2 separate regions of the Homo sapiens genome follow, and region 2 is linked to region 1. The links come from fine-mapping of genetic effects on gene expression. Tissue or cell type: whole blood. Region 1 holds a variant in brackets; the other region holds the start of a gene. All regions are shown on one strand. Distances are from middle to middle.

Region 1 (8,175 bases):
TCAGGGGGCAGCGGACAGACTCTTACCCAACAGCATGGCCCCCTCAGAGCTGGCAAAACCCCAAGAAGGGGCAGGAAGGCCCCGTCCCAGAGGCTGCCATTCTACTAGCATAGCCGTGGCCTGTGTGCCTGCTCAGGGCAATGCTGAGATCTTTAATTTTTCTTCACAGAGATTAATCCCCAGAGGAAGCAGCTTGCCAGTGAATGACAGCTTTTGTTTGCTCATGTTTTCCTCTCCTCCCAGAGTCAACTTTCAGAATATACCAGGATGTTCCCTCTCACTTGACTTTCTTTTCTTTTCTTTTCTTTTCTTTTTTTTTACTGGAGGAGAGGGGAGGCTCCACAGCATATTATCCAAAGGCGAGGCAGATGGTTCTTTGTCCAATAGTGAGAGAGGGGAGAGAGGGGCCATTGGTCTTCTCTTTTTGTGTTTTACGTTTTTACTTCTCATGTTGAGATGTTGTAACGGCACTTCATACCTCCTCGGCCGCTGTTGTCTTCACAATGCACAGAACATGTTCCATGTCATGTCATCTTGCTCTTCCCACACAACTCTTCTGTGGGGCAATACTGGTTTTGGAATTGCCATTTTAGAAGTGAGCAAACAAGACTCAGATCAAGTGACCCAGCTCAAGTCTCATGGGCAGGAAGTGGACAAACCAAGGTCTGAACCAAAGTGAGTGCTTTTTCTACCAGGCTACAAAATGGAATGTTGCAGGGAGCTGCCTGCCCAGTGAGTGAGTCCTCTCCTCTCCCTGTGCTGGGTAGAGTTCTCAGTGTAGATTCCCTGGGGCAGAACACACTGAGAGTTGCATGGTGATTTTTACCCCATCCACCAACTGCATATCAAAGTCTCTGCAGGCTAGATTACGAGACCAGGCGTCCAAAGCATCTAAGCCACTGCTCCCCACTCCTTCCACTTCCAGTGGCAAAAAGGACTCAAATAGACTCAATCCACAAACGTTCTGTGGAATACCCACTCAGGGCTAGAATATTGAGGGATTTGGTGCAAGGAAAAGATACCCTCCCTGCTCTTAAGGAGTTTACAGTCCAGATGAGGAGACAAAGCAGAGAACCCTATATCATTACAACTGCTAAGAACCTTGGAGATCAGCCATCTAAACCCCGTGTTTAGCAGTAAGGATATGGGACAGTTCAGGGAACCGAGGAGTGGATCAAGAGGGGCAATAGGAAACAGTGTTGCGTTTCATGCTGAAGAGTACAGTGGGGCAACTGGCGCGGTGGCTCACACCTGTAATCCCAGCACCTATGGAGGCCAAGGCAGGAGGATCACTTGAGCCCAGAAGATTGAGACCAGCCTGGGAAACATAAGGAGACTGTGTCTCTATAAAAAAATATTTTTTAAAAAATTAGCCAGGTGTGATAGCGTGTACCTGTAGTCCCAGCTACTTGGGAGGCTGAGGGTTGGAGGATGGCCTGAGCCCAGGAAGTCGAGGCTACAGTGAGCCATGATCATGCCACTGCACTCCATCGTGGGCTACAGAGGGAAACCCTGTCTCAAAAGAAAAAAAAAAGAGTGTGGTGGGGTCTGCAAGCTGGTCAGAGAATGCTAATTGGTCCAGACACACTCTAGGAGAACATAAAATTTGGTCTCCATCTTGAAGCATATATAGCACTGAATAGATGGACAGAAAGACAGGTGCCACAAAAGCAGAAGGAAGAAGGCAGACTGAAGTCTAGTGTGCCTGCGGGACAGTGAGGGGCTGGAGTCGAGAGAGAGGGAGGAGAGGAAAAAACCAAGGCTGAAAATTTGGATGAAGCCAGACCCTGGAGGATCTTCAGCAGTCAGGAGGAACATGCATGCAAAGCCAGAAAGAAGATAGTTGATGGTCAGGGTTTCAGGGCTTGCTGACCAATGAAACCCTGGTCCTGTAATTCTGTAAGCTCCAGACCATTTCCTCCACAGCCACACCTACCAACCCATCTAAATTGACAGCCCCGGAGGCTGGGGGCACACGGAGGTCCCACTGCGCACTATTCTGTGAGTCTGGATTGAGTAGCACTGCCACGGGGTTCACCTAGCCCAACACATTCAGGTCATCCGGCCGCACACCCACAGTCCACCCTTTTCTCATTCCTGCAGCCACCACCTCCATGTTTCTGTGAGCTCCCCAACCCCAGGCCCTCCTCCCTGGCTCTCCAGGACGCCCCAGGCAAGGACTGGTTTGTCCAAGCTGGAAGAGCAAAGAGTGAAAGGGCCAGGGAGGAGGAGGCTGCTTTGGGGTCAGTAGGAGCTCACATTGGCAGACTAGGACATCAGAGAGGAACCCCTTTCTGCAGGACAGCAGAGACACAGTGAATGGACATCTGGGGCCAAATTCCTCCAGCGCACGGGGACCCTGAGGGCACGAAAGCCAGAAAGAGGACCCCGCTGTGTCCCTGGCCTCCTACTGCACACTCCTGTGGCTTGAACATCTCCATCAGCTGTTGCTTTTTTTTACCTTGTACCTCACTTTACCCATTTTAGCCTAAAAACAAGAACGTCTGCCCTCTTCCTTCTTAACCAAGACTGAGATGAGGACAAGTCAGACCCTTCAGACCCATCGTTTCAGGGACCAGGTGTGGCAGCTGTTGCAGCTAAAACTCACAATGACCATAGTAATGTCATCGTTCCTCTGCTTCCAAAAACAAAGCCTGTCTGCGTTCATTAACAGCCCTTTGTTCTTCTAGCAGCTCCAGCCTGAATGAGAAGCACGTCCTCCTGGGAGTTACGTCAGCAGCCTGACCTTCCATCTTCCTCCTCTAAAGAAGCGTCCCTGCCACCCTGAGCACGAAGCCCTCGGGTTCCTAAAGGCCGAGGCGCTTCTTCTCATTTACTTCCCTTGAGGAAGAAAGACCAGCCCATCCACCCTCATTTCCCACCGAAGGGCATCGCAAATAAAGTTTGCCCACGCAACCAGGCCACCACCATTAATTTCTCTCTGCCCTGCTCTTACATTCTCCTCAAGGTTTTCAGTCCCCTAGAGAGGCTCCCTTCCCTCTTTTCTTTCCTTCCTCCAGCCCCCCTTTTCACCTCCCTCCACCATTGTTTGAGGTTAAGAAGCATGCTACGGTGTTCTATAAATCACTTGGCAAGAGTAGACGACAAAAGCAAAATATAATTCAGATTAAAGTCATCCTCCCGCTGAAATGATAGTTTCTTAAATAAATGGCGATGCTGCCTATCAATCTTGCTGGCAACTGGTCCTCTCATATTCATCTTTCTGGGGGTGATTTAGGATCCACCTGGGTCCTCCGAGAAGATTCTCCCATCATTTCCTTCCCGTCTCTCTGGATCTTGCTGCTGGGCTTGGCGCAGTTGACAAATTCTCCAAGTAATCCCTCAAAAGATTGGAGAAATGCTCCGAACGCTCCATTAAACTTATTTTCCATGCTTTAAGAGACCCAAAACTATGTCCAATAAATAAGTGTTCCCTGTGATTTACTGAAATGCTCCTCTGATTTAAAGTTATAGAGGGAAAAATATGGCGCCCCTGGGAGGGAAGGACCAGCCTCACAAGTGAGACCAGATGTGAGATTTCTGCCCGGGGAGGGGAGAAGAGGGGGAAAAAACAACCCAAGTGGTGGAGGTTTGAAAGTGACAATGTCTGAACCCAGGCTCTCGGCTTTAACATAAAAGGTCCCCAGTTGAACATTCTTTCTCACAAAATTTATTGTGGTTGTAGTTAGAGGGGGAACCATCAAAAGAGTAATTCTGGCCCTTGTTTTGCAGAGCTCTTTTGATAAATATGATACTTAGAAATATGCCTCCCACTAGACAGAAAAGCCATATAGTTAAAATGAAGTAATCTGTCAGTAAACTCGCTAGAATCAAAGCCAAAATGAAACCTGTAAAAGGAGAAGGGGGAAAAAATCTCCACTTAGAAACGTTTGAGTCAAGCAGGGGAGAAGGTAGAGATTAAGAATTGTCCTTTATTCAGATATTTTTATCTACGGAGTTAAAAGCGGAGATTTATTTTTAAAAGGGGCTATTTATGTTCCAATCTCCAACAGATGGGTCTGTGTTCCTGCCTCGCTCATGCAGCTCAGGCTCAGCAAAAAAACAGCTTCTCTTCTGAGCTGAAACTTACCCAAAAGAAGGAGGAATAAAAACTTTGGGAAACAAATGTAACCTTTGGAGCTGCTTGGTAAATATTGGAACTGTTTACTATGGAGGCCCAGATGTGTCAAAACCAAGAAACAAACAGGAACCAGCAAAAACAGATGTGAAGACTAGACATGTATACATATTAACCATGTATTACATATGCATATGTGTGCACACGTGTCACTCATGTACTGATTCCCAGAGGGCTGGATAACTTCGGCCAAGAAAATTCCCACTGGGGAAGAGACATCATCCATAGGTTATCCCAAATAGTTCTATCTTAGGAGTCCACTTCTCTGAGTCTCTCTTCACGTGATCAATCACTTGTTTAGAAAATATTTCTCATGGTCAATAACAGAAAATTTTTACATTAGCTCCACTAGTGAAATTACCCTCAAAGCATTTCTTGCACCAAAAGAAACCAGACTCCATGGCTGCATCAGCGACTGGGCTAGCCACTCTGGAAACAGGTTCCCAAGCCTTCAAGAGCTGCCAAGCCATCCCAGAATAAAGCGCCCCTCCTCACCGAGCAGCAGGCTCTGGTCTGTGCAGCTTCCACAAGGCCTGATCCCAGGAAAAGCCTTCCTGCTTCCCAGGGACTTCCCCATTCCTGTCCCCAAAACAACGCCTGAGGCTGTCAGCCTAGAGAAGGGGAAGTCCCCACCACCCCGTCCCAGGATGCGAGGCAGGAAGACATTTACCCCACCTGC[G/C]GGACAAAAAGATTAAGGCCCACGGTGTGTATACAGCCTCGGGCCAATTACAGTTTTCAAATTCTCCCACTCCCTCCACTGGCATTTGTCCTAGAGTGAAATGTGCCTAAAATGAAGAGGAGAAAGACAGAGGATAACAGAAGGGTGTCAGGGAAGGAGTCTTAAATATCAGATGACCCCAAATCTGACCCTGGTTCTGCAATAAAGTGTCTATGTGACCTGAGACCAGTGGCTTCACCAACCGGAACCCCAGTTTCTTCCATCTGTGGTGAAGCGTTGAACCAAATGACCTCCTGCTTCTCAGACTCCCAGAGATGGTCCCTTTCTCAGGCCCCAGGGCCTCCCTCCCTCCAAGGCACCCCTGCAGGTCTGGACAGAGTTGGAGGGTGTGGGGTTGGAACGGCACCTGTGTTTACAATGGTACAATCTGCAGTTTACTGTAATAAAATCATTTAATACATTCATAATTTTTTTGGCAAGGGGTTGTGTTTATGGTGAGCAAGACAGAGAGGGAATGATTGACTAGGACTGATTAAAACGATAAATCAAAAACGAAGGCGGGAGGACATGAAGAGCGCAAAGCCACAGGCAAATCCAATTTAAGTCTCAGGCTCGGTGTCTTTGTGGGAACAGCTTGGCCTGAGGATGAGCCAGCCCTGGGGGTGGGGGCCCCGGGCCAGGGTGGGAGTGATGGGGCACAGAATCTGGCAGCTCAACCCAACAGGGTTTATCTTCACCGGGCTGAGAAATAAGGAAATGGTTTTACAAGAACTCATTTCCTTGGGCCTCTGTCTTCAAAAGGATTTAGGAGGGCTGGAGAATAAAGGAGAGTGTGTGTGTGTGTCACATACGTGTGCATCCAGGTAGAATAATTTGAGCAAGACCTAGAGGGACTTTCCAGAATCAAAATTATCTTTAAAGAAAAAAACGATCCTTCAAGTAAAGTATCTGAAACTCCACTGCTAGCAAGGATTAGCAAACACTTCTGACCTTGCAAATGCTGTCCTTCAATAACTGAGTGCCTACTGCATGCCAGGCACTGTGCTGGGGCAGAAACAGATTGTTCACTTAACGAATAATGAGCAAGTCCAAGCACTGTCCTAGGCCCCAGGGATAGAAGAGTGAAAAAAGAATCCCCGACCCCATGGAACTGCTCTTGTGGGCATTTACCTCCTTGTGAATTAAGCACTATGTTTGCCCCTGGAAAAACAGGCTTCCAGTCAACAGTTGTTTATACAACAGTGTGATAAATGCTATAACTCAAAGGTGTACAAAGGGTCATTAATACTGAGGGGTTGAATTCTGATCCAGTCTTTATTATTATTATTATTCCACCCTTCTCACTCCCCGACCTCACTGTTCCATCACTCCCCACCCTGCTTCCATATGGACCCATTGTTTAACTCCCACATATAAGTGAAAACATGAGGTATTTGTCTTTCTGTGTCTGAGTTGTTTTATGTAGTGTTCTCCAATCCCACCCATTTTGCTGCAAAAGACCTGAATTCATTCTTTTTTATAGCTGAATACTATTCCATTGTGTATATATGCCACATTTCCTTTATCTAGTCATCCATCGATGGACACTCAGGTTGATTCCACAGGCTGATTTGCTATCATGATTTGCTATCATGAATATTGCTGCGATAAACATACGCATGCAGGTATCTTTTTGATATACTGATTTCTTTTCCTTTAGATAGAAACCCAGTAGTAGGATTGCTGAGTTGAACGGTGGTTCTATCTTTAGTTCTTTAAGAAATCTCCGTAATGTTTTTCATCCAGGTTGTACTAATTTACATTCCCACCAACAGTGTATAAAGTTTCCCTTTTCTCCACATCCTCTCCAACACCTGTTTAGGGTTTTTTTTATTTTGTTTTGTTTTGTTTTGTTTTTAACTTTTTAATAATCTGAGCTGGGGCTGGGCATGGTAATCCCAGTAATCCCAGCACTTTGGGAGGCCAAGGCAGGAGGATACTTTGAGGTCAGGAGTTTGAGACCAGCCTGAGCAACATAGTGAGACCCCATCTCTACAAAAACTAAAACATTAGCTGGGTGTGGTGGCATGCACCTGTGTGGTCCCAGCTACTTGGGAGGTTGAGGCGGGAAGATCGCTTGAGTCCAGGAATTTGAGGCTACAGTGAGCTATGATCACACTACTGCACCCCAGCCTGGGCAACAGAGCAAGACTCTGTCTCAAAATAATAATCGTAATAATAATAATGTGAGCTGGATCTTAAAGGGTAAGAAGAATCGCCCTTTCACAGCCAGAAAAGAACAGTGCTCCAGACAGAGGTCACTGCATTAGTGAAGGCATGGAGCTTTGGAAGGGCTTCTATTGGGAAGGGAGAGAAACCAAATGCCTAGGAAGGGCTAGGTATTACGTTGCTTGTCTGGTTACCAGCTAATTCCTTGGTTAGTTATTTAACAGCTCTCTGAGAGCACGTCTTCAAAAAAAAAAAGAGGTCAGGAGCCTGGGAATTGGAAGGCTGCGGGGAGATGGGTTGGATAGAGAAGTCAAGACAAACTTCAGTTACTTCACAGCTTTGCATAGGATGGTGTGGTAGAAAAAACTACTGACCACCAAAGATTCATGCTCCCCCAACACCATGTTGAGTTGCTTCTGGGGAGCAGATGCCCAGTCTACAATTTTCACCACCCACACCCACAACCCAGCCCATGCAGCTAGTGCGATCCACACGACTGGGTCTCACCAATGGAACATGGGCGTAAGGGTCATGCATCATGTCCAGGCCAACATGGTGTTAGTCTCCAGTGTGCTGTCTCCCCGTCCACAGAGACCGCGAAAGTATCCAATGTACTCCCTGGATAGAGACCTCTCCATGAGACTTCAGAAGCCAGGTGTTAAAGATGGTGTCATCACAAAATGGCAGCAAGGAGCTGTTCAGGGAGCCACCTTGTGATCCCTGAGGTAGGAGTATAACCTCATGGTGAGGCAGCACCTTCAGCAGAGGGCAAGTTCTGGAAAAGGAAACACAGCTATGAATCATCTACAGAGAATAAACCTGCAGCTGCAGGCAAAGGAGTTTATGGAAGGAGCTGAAGGGAGCTGCATGGAAGATAGACCACAGCAGCCACCGCAGTCCACAGTCCACAGTCCACAGTGCTGCTGGGATTCATTCACTTAGTCTAAGTCACGCCACCTGGGAACAGTTCCTGCAGGATTTCATTGGATCTCCTTTCCTAGAGAAATCAAACTCCAGTCCCAACTGTTACAACCAATACTCACCATCCCCCTCCTCTACTACCTATTCTAAATGCCCCTCAGCCCCCGCTACTGATCTAGTGGCTTACTTGGTGGGGTGACCCAAACCCACATCTTTGAGGGGACTGAGC
Region 2 (8,175 bases), 130 kb after region 1:
TAGCTGGGCATGATGGTGGGCGCCTGTAATCCCAGCTACTTGGGAGGCTGAGACTGGAGGAGAATCGCTTGCACCCAGGAGGCGGAGGTTGCAGTGAGCCAAGATCACGTCACTGCACTCCAGCCTGGGCAACAGAGCAAGACTCTGTCTCAAAAAAACAATGCATTTGGGAAAAGGTACTTTAACATGTTTATACAATCAACATTTTGAAAAATACAATCATCCGTGTTAAACCTTTTGGGAATACAGTGAGGTGTGATATAAATAAATAGCCCTATTTTTGTAAAATTCTTCGTTCATCAGAAACATTCACTGGGTACTAACTGCACTGAGACTGCCTGGACCTGGATTTGACACTCCAGGCTCACCTCCTACCAGCTTGGGCCTTGGGCAAGTTACTTAACCTTTCTGTGCCTGTGAAATGGAAGTAACCATAGGACCCATCTCCTAAGGTTTCTGCAAGGATTAAATGAGAGAATGCACGCAAAGTGCTTAGAACAGCGTTTGGCACTCAACGTTGGCTACTGTGGTGATGGTGAACCGCTCTGTTAGGCAATAAGTACACAAAGAGGATGAGGAAAACAAGAAGCATTCACAGTCCAGTGGGAGATCAGACAAGGAAGCAAATAGTGGCAGATGCCATGTGATAGGTGTAATAATAGAACATAATACCAACTGTGAGAATGTAGAAGAGGGAGCCTCTTGAGTCATCGGTGGGGCGGGCTTCCTGCAGGGCTGGCTGTCCTGGTCTTAGCCTGCTTGCTCCCACTGTTCCCTGGTGCCCCTCTCGTGCCCCAGGCTGTGTCTGAAGCCGGGGGATGGGGCAGACAGAGGAAGCGCCTTCAAGTGCCCTGAGTGCAGTGTGCTAAATCAGGGCTCCCGGCCAAAGCAGTAATTGCCAGCCGCTGAAAGATATTAAGCGCCAGGGAGGAAAACCAAGTTCTCTATGAGGCAGACTTTTCAGAGTTCTTACAGCTTGTAAAAAAAAAAAAAATGTAAATAGTTACCCAGTGAGATATTATTTCATGTTGTTGCCATTAGGGTTTGAGTGTTATGCAGAGAGAGGAGAGAGAGGCGATCATTCAGGCAATTCTGCCTCGGCAAGGACTGAAAACTACACATTAACCCCACACAACAAATCTACCCCCTCTAGGTCTTAACCTGACTCGAGCATTTTTTCCTGGGTGGTGAATTTTATGTAAATTGAAGTAGTGAAAAAATAATCTATACATATTCACAGTTTCTTAAAGGATTTTCTTGATGGCTTCTAGGGAGGGATGGGCTATTTTTTTTTTTTTTTAAGACACATTGCGGGCTGGGCACGGTGGCTCATGCCTGTAATTCCAGCACTTTCGGAGGCTGAGGCCGGCAGATCACTTGAGGTCAGGAGTTCAAGACCAGCCTGGCCAACATGGAGAAACCCCATCTCTACTAAAAATACAAAAATTAGCTAGGCATCATAGCACACGCCTGTAATCCCAGCTACTCGGGAGGCTGAGGCAGGAGAATCGCTTGAACCCGAGAGGCAGAGGTTGCAGTGAGCCGAGATCATGCCACTGCACTCCAGCCTGGGCAAGACAGCAAGACTCCGTCTCAAAAAAAAAAAAAGACACATTGAACTGGAGGCTGGGGAAGGGTTACTTTCATTTCTGTAGAATTCAGAGACAACCTGGGCTCTTCTGCTTGGGTTCCCAGGGCTAAATCTGGTGCTGATGTGGCTGCTCCCCTGAGCAATTGCTCCTCAGACACAAATGATGCAATCGGTTACAGCCATCATTTACCTTCAACTTTCTTTGTGCCAAGCATGAAACAGGTGACATGCATTGTCTGCTTCTGGTCTCCCAACTCTGAAGTGGCCACGCTTCCATTTTACCCTGGAGGAAACCAAAGCTTAGGGAGGTTCACTTGCCCGGGGTCCCCACAGCAGCCTGGTTCTGGGCCTGACTCTCTTCAGCTTGAACTGAGAATGATAGCAACACCTGATGTTTATTAAGCGCCTGACATACCGAACTGTCATTCTTCACCACAGTGTCATGGGGGCACTCTCAGGCAGCCCTCTCCCCTGTCCCATTTTAATGGTGGCCGCTCATTCCCAGGGCCATCTGAGGAGGACCTGGACAGTGGAAGGCCCCTGAGCCACGCATCTGCCACTTTTTTGCAGAGGGAGAACCTGTGTCATATGTCCTGAACAGGGATGTCTTACTCGGGCCTTCCAACCACATCGCCCTCCATAAACACAGCCCATCTGAATACAGAGCCACATTCCCTCCCAGGTGACAAGCCATTCCTCTGAAAACTACACTTGCCTTCAGGCCCCGAGGGCCCCATTTAGTGCTCTGTATAGGTTAGCATTTTAGCTAAGTGAATGGTGAATCCCAATTGTAATAATCATCTAGCAGTGTTTTAATTAGGCCTCTGGCCTGGCTATGCATGGTTTTTCATTTTCCCTCCTAAGACGTTTGGATGGATCCAGCCAAAGAAACCCTGCTGCCCTGACCAGCAGCTCAAAGTGTGTCCCTCCCGCCTTGCATGCTTTCAGAGGTGTGTCCTACCACTTCCCAGGAGGTGGGAGCAGGCCAATCTGTGTGCCCGTCAGTAATTACCACTGGGAGCTCAGGGAGTGAGGTGTTTTTAACAGGACAGTATAGTATTACCTAGGCAAATCCCCCATCACATCCTGCCAGTCTGTCCTTACCTCCTCTTCTCTCCCTTCCTTTCCTTCATTCACTACCTTTTTCCTTCTCTTTTCCTCTCCAAACAGAGAGTGAATATTCTATTGTCCTCTCTCTTCTCCCCTCTCTCCTTTCAGCTGCCTCCTGCTCTGTTTTCCAAATTCCTAAATACCTCTTCCCTCTCCCCTCCCCTTTTCCTCCTGACTTATTTCCCATTAATCATTTCTAACACACATCTGCTCAGGCCCTAGAAGGATCCCTTGGCTCCCTCTCACAGCTGGGCTGGTTACAATAATCAGGGAGACTTTCATCTTTCATAGCCTCCTAGGTCTCCCCTCTGCCCAGCTCCTCCTCCTCTGCGTTCCTGCAAAGGCCAGCCTCTCTGCACCCTGGCTTCCTTCTGCCCTTCCCGCTCTACACAGCAGTCTCCCGAAGGCAAAATGGCTTGTGGGTGGACACAGCCCTGCAGTGGACTTTTACAGGTGGTGTTTGCAGTGATGGCAATGGCTGCCCGCACAGAAGTCGGCATGAGAAGCCTGCCACGATGAAATAAATGAGATCACTCCCTCCCTTTTCATTCCCGCACCCCTCTTGCTGCAATGTGGGATCCATCTCACAGTCAGGGTACCCCTTTCCATTCGGCGTAACATGATTTTACCAAGATTAAAATTGGGGAACATGTAATTACAGCTTGTGTAATTTCTAAGCATTCTATAAGTGCTGCCCAAAATACAGTATGGATCCAGGGAGTGCACTTAGTTTTGGGTATGACTGATACTGCCTGGAAGTGGGGTCTGCTGTCTTCTACTACTGGGCAAGATACAGATTCGTGATAGCTATTTCTTTCTGTTTGAAGAGCTCCTTTGAAATCACCTCTCCCCATCTTGGGTTCTCAGGTCATCTCAAGGCGTCGGTCAGCGCGGCAGAGTCGGGAACCTGCCATCCTAGAGCAATACGCCCCGAGTGACAGCCCTGACAACCGGAGTGATGGATCGGGACTGGAAAAGTGGTGCTGGGAGCCAGGCAGTGACACCAGCGCGCCTCCACTGGCCGCCGAGCGCACGGAGAAGTGGGCTCCCCAGAGTTCGGCACCCAAAGGACCAACTTCGCCTCCGGAAAAGCGGCGGATCCGGAACTTGGATGTCAGGACTATGACTACGTAAAATCTCTGCCCAGGGCGAAGCTAGCAATGCACACTGTATCAGAAAGGCGCAGGGAGTCGGGAAGGGTATTGTTATTTTTAATTAAAAGTTTTTATCCCGAAATTTGCCTGGGGAAAGCAAGTGCTTTTTCCCCCGGAGTGAGAAGGATGGGGGGGCGGAGGGGTTGTGTTGCCGAGCAGCGCTTAGAGAGAGATCCCCCTCCAGGGACACCCGCCTCGCCCGTGATCTCGGTCTCTCCTCGTAGCAGCTGGGCGCGGTACAGTGAGGAACTTCACGCCCCTCAGCAGGACACGGTAAGAAGCCTGTAACACACCAGACACCGAGCCTCTAACGCAGGGCGCAGGCACAGCGCGCACAGCCTGGGGTCCCGCGCTTGGTCGCCGACCATGTCACTCCAGAAGGGAGACAAACTTGCAGGCTTCAGACAAGACGGGCTCAAAGTAGTTGGAGCTGCCTACGCCGCGTCCCGAGAACAGTGGGTGCCTCCGAGGCTCGGGCGCTTCCAAGTGAACACACCAAGGGGAGGCCAAGTAGGGGAAGGAGAGCGGGGCCGAGGAGAGCCGGAGCAGCTCTGGAGAAGGACCCGGGCTCCCGAGGCGAGGCCTGCCCCCAGGCGGCCTCTGGGAGAGGCTTGAACTCCAGCGTCCCAGAGCCCGCGCCGTGCGATCCCTCCCACCCCACCCCACCCCACCCCACCCCACCTCGGACACACACGGCGGGCGGGGTTACAGCCCCCGCCAGCATCACCCCCCACCCACCCAGTGGTGAGAAGGGAGAGAGGAGAGAGAGCGGCCGGAAAGGAGGACGGGGCGCAGAGCTCAGGGTCCCGGAGAAGTCCCGTCCCAGGCGGGGGACCCCAGGGCGAGGAAGGCCCAGTCGGGGGGAGGGGAGGAATCCCGGGAGCGGCCGAGACCGAGGCAGCGGCGGCGCGCGGCGCGGCCCCTTTAAGGCTCTCCCCGCCCACCGATGGAGCCGGCCTCAGCCCGCCGCTCTCCCCGCCCCGGGGTCCCGGCGAGAGCTGCGATTGGGCGGGCGCGGCGATCCCTTTGAAGTGTGGCTGCCGATCGCGGCTATTTGACGTGCGGCTCGAGGAAGGCGAAGGTTTTTGTGTTGCTAGCCGGGGCCAGCGGCGGTGGCGGCGGCGGCGGAGGCGTCGGTGGAGGAGGGGAGGCGGCGAGGAGGCGCAGCTCCCGCTGCACCGCGATCGACGCTGCGGAGCGAGCCCACCCGCCCCGGGAGCTCGCCTCCCCGGTGCTCCCCCGCCCTCCCCGCCCCCCCAGCGGCGCTGCCTCCTCCAAATGAGCGATTCGCCCGCTGGATCTAACCCAAGGACACCCGAAAGCAGCGGCAGCGGCAGCGGCGGCGGCGGGAAGAGGCCGGCGGTGCCGGCAGCGGTGTCCCTCTTGCCACCGGCGGACCCCCTGCGCCAGGCGAACCGGCTCCCGATCAGGGTCCTGAAGATGCTGAGCGCTCACACCGGTCACCTCCTGCACCCGGAGTACCTGCAGCCGCTGTCCTCCACTCCCGTCAGCCCCATTGAGGTCAGTCCCCGGCCGCTGCCCCCGGGCGCCGGCCCCATTCCTCCCACCGCGACCGGGACCCTGACCCAGCTCCCAGCGCCCCGGGGCTCGGTGCGACACCCAAGTCTGGTCACGCTGGCGGGCTGAGTGAGGAGGGGAAGAAAACCGAGGGATCAGAGCCCACCAGGGCTTCCCCAGGCTTCCCCGTGGAAGGGTCTCCTTCCACGCTCGCCCTTCGGAGCTCCGTGTTTTCTCTCGGATTGGATTTGCTCCTGGAGTCCCCTCTGGGTCCTTTACTTTTCCTCTGATCCCCAGTTTCCAGCCAGGAGTTGGTCTCTGCTGGGTCTTCCCCGCCCCCCACGCCGGGCTGTTTTCTTTGAAGCCCTGGCTGCCCGGGTCCCACTTCGCCTCTGTCCCATCCGGTGAGGGCGCACGGCGCCCTGGCGCTCCCGATCCCGGATCTTTCTTCCTGCCTCTTCCCTGGGTGCCCTCCCCGGGAGGGAGGGGCTACGGAGAGAGCGCCAACTGCAGCCCCTCCTTTAGAATCCGCGCTCCCCTCTCCTACCCCGCGGCGCCATCGCCAGAAACCCGTCCCAAGCGAAGTTCCCCCAAACTAAAGGAATAAGTTTTTTCCTGGGCCTGGAGGAGGGGGACATTAGAGGGAAGTGGCGAGTCACAGCCCCGACTCCAGAGACGTCACCTTCTCCCGCAGGGGTCCTGGGTGAACTCCTTCCGCAGGGCCTGCGGCGCACCCCGGGACCCAGCGGCAGTGTGGGCGCAGTTCCGCCAGCTGCCGCGCCCGGCCCGGCCCTCGCTCGCAGACCCTCTCCCCAGGCCCGCCCCGCCCCGTGGCGCCGCCGCCCAGCTCCCCGGGCGCCCCCGCTCGCCCCGCAGGCCTCTGAGTCTCACTCCTTCTCCCTCCCCCTGCTTCTGTCTCCCACAGCTGGACGCCAAGAAGAGCCCCTTGGCGCTGCTGGCTCAGACCTGCTCGCAGATCGGCAAGCCGGACCCGCCGCCCTCCTCCAAACTCAACTCGGTGGCGGCGGCGGCCAACGGGCTGGGAGCGGAGAAGGACCCCGGCCGCTCAGCCCCGGGCGCCGCCTCCGCAGCCGCGGCCCTGAAGCAGCTGGGGGACTCACCGGCCGAGGACAAGTCCAGCTTCAAGCCCTACTCCAAGGGCTCCGGCGGCGGCGACTCCCGCAAAGACAGCGGCTCCTCCTCGGTGTCTTCCACCTCCTCCTCGTCCTCCTCGTCCCCGGGAGACAAGGCGGGCTTCAGGGTCCCCAGCGCCGCCTGCCCGCCCTTTCCCCCGCATGGAGCGCCGGTCTCCGCATCCTCGTCCTCGTCGTCGCCCGGCGGCTCCCGCGGCGGCTCCCCGCACCACTCTGACTGCAAGAACGGCGGCGGGGTTGGCGGCGGGGAGCTGGACAAGAAAGACCAGGAGCCCAAGCCCAGCCCGGAGCCGGCAGCCGTGAGCCGCGGCGGCGGTGGGGAGCCCGGGGCGCACGGTGGCGCCGAGTCCGGGGCCTCCGGGCGCAAGTCCGAGCCGCCCTCGGCGCTGGTGGGGGCCGGCCACGTGGCGCCGGTGTCTCCCTACAAGCCGGGCCACTCGGTGTTCCCGCTGCCGCCCTCCAGCATTGGCTACCACGGCTCCATCGTGGGCGCCTACGCCGGCTACCCGTCTCAGTTCGTGCCTGGCCTGGATCCTAGCAAGTCCGGCCTCGTGGGAGGCCAGCTGTCTGGGGGCCTGGGCCTGCCGCCGGGCAAGCCCCCCAGCTCCAGCCCGCTCACCGGGGCCTCCCCGCCCTCCTTCCTGCAGGGATTATGCCGCGACCCCTATTGCTTGGGAGGTTACCACGGCGCCTCGCACCTCGGCGGCTCCAGCTGCTCCACCTGCAGCGCGCACGACCCTGCCGGGCCCAGCCTGAAGGCGGGGGGCTACCCGCTGGTGTACCCCGGGCACCCGCTGCAGCCCGCCGCGCTCTCGTCCAGCGCCGCCCAGGCCGCGCTCCCCGGCCACCCGCTCTACACCTACGGCTTCATGCTGCAGAACGAACCGCTGCCGCACAGCTGCAACTGGGTGGCAGCCAGTGGGCCGTGCGACAAGCGCTTCGCCACCTCGGAGGAGCTGCTCAGCCACCTACGGACCCACACGGCCCTGCCGGGAGCCGAGAAACTTCTGGCCGCCTACCCCGGGGCCTCGGGCCTGGGCAGCGCCGCCGCCGCCGCCGCCGCCGCCGCCTCCTGCCATCTGCACCTCCCCCCGCCCGCCGCCCCCGGCAGCCCCGGGTCGCTGTCCTTGCGGAATCCACACACTTTGGGCCTAAGCCGGTACCACCCCTATGGCAAGAGCCACTTATCCACAGCGGGGGGCCTGGCCGTGCCGTCCCTCCCCACAGCCGGACCCTACTATTCGCCATACGCGCTGTATGGACAGAGACTAGCTTCAGCCTCGGCGCTGGGATACCAGTAACTACAGCTCTTCCTCCACCCCAGCCCCCTCACCCTCCTCCCTCTCCCTCCTCCTCCCTCCCCACCTGCCGTCGCCGCTGCAACCTCCACTACTGCTTGACCCTGCCGGGATTCCCCACCCAGCCCTTCCCCACCGGACTGTGTATTTATTTACTATAATGTTAGCTTACAAGCTGGGAATATAAGTGCATTAACGGCCCACATGAGTCAATGGTATGCAAAAAGTCTGTGTTCTCCCAAATAATAATATTAATCCCACAAATAACGACATGATCCCCGCCCCTGTTCCTTTCTGTTATTTTTTCTTAGATATAAGTTTTACATTTTTTATTCCTTTTCCTCTTTTTT

Evidence for each region. PIP is the estimated chance that this variant, and not a neighbour inherited with it, causes the effect.
Region 2: it holds the start of ZNF703, and the variant in region 1 is fine-mapped to the expression of ZNF703 in whole blood (TOPMed, PIP 0.98).

What each region holds. Positions count from the first base shown.
Region 1 is chr8:37,562,194-37,570,368 of GRCh38, forward strand. All of the region lies in intron 1 of LINC01605 (long intergenic non-protein coding RNA 1605), which reads right to left. It overlaps LOC105379379 (a long non-coding RNA gene), which reads left to right. Exons shown (of 3, transcript NR_188159.1): 3 at 2,691-3,200. Among named protein-coding and RNA genes, the nearest start is that of LINC01605, 34 kb to the right of the region's middle. The variant G/C (reference allele first, on the strand shown) is at 4,818.
Region 2 is chr8:37,690,847-37,699,021 of GRCh38, forward strand. It overlaps ZNF703 (zinc finger protein 703), which reads left to right and starts at 4,936. Exons shown (of 2, transcript NM_025069.3): 1 at 4,936-5,376; 2 at 6,299-8,175. The coding sequence starts at 5,134. The coding sequence ends at 7,828. It overlaps LOC124901932 (a long non-coding RNA gene), which reads left to right and starts at 3,084. Exons shown (of 2, transcript XR_007060887.1): 1 at 3,084-3,154; 2 at 3,569-3,937. It overlaps LOC124901933 (a long non-coding RNA gene), which reads right to left and starts at 4,835. Exons shown (of 2, transcript XR_007060888.1): 1 at 4,594-4,835; 2 at 3,899-4,137. RefSeq lists silencers at 3,575-3,759, 4,547-4,896, 4,947-5,046 and enhancers at 4,781-5,324, 5,325-5,867.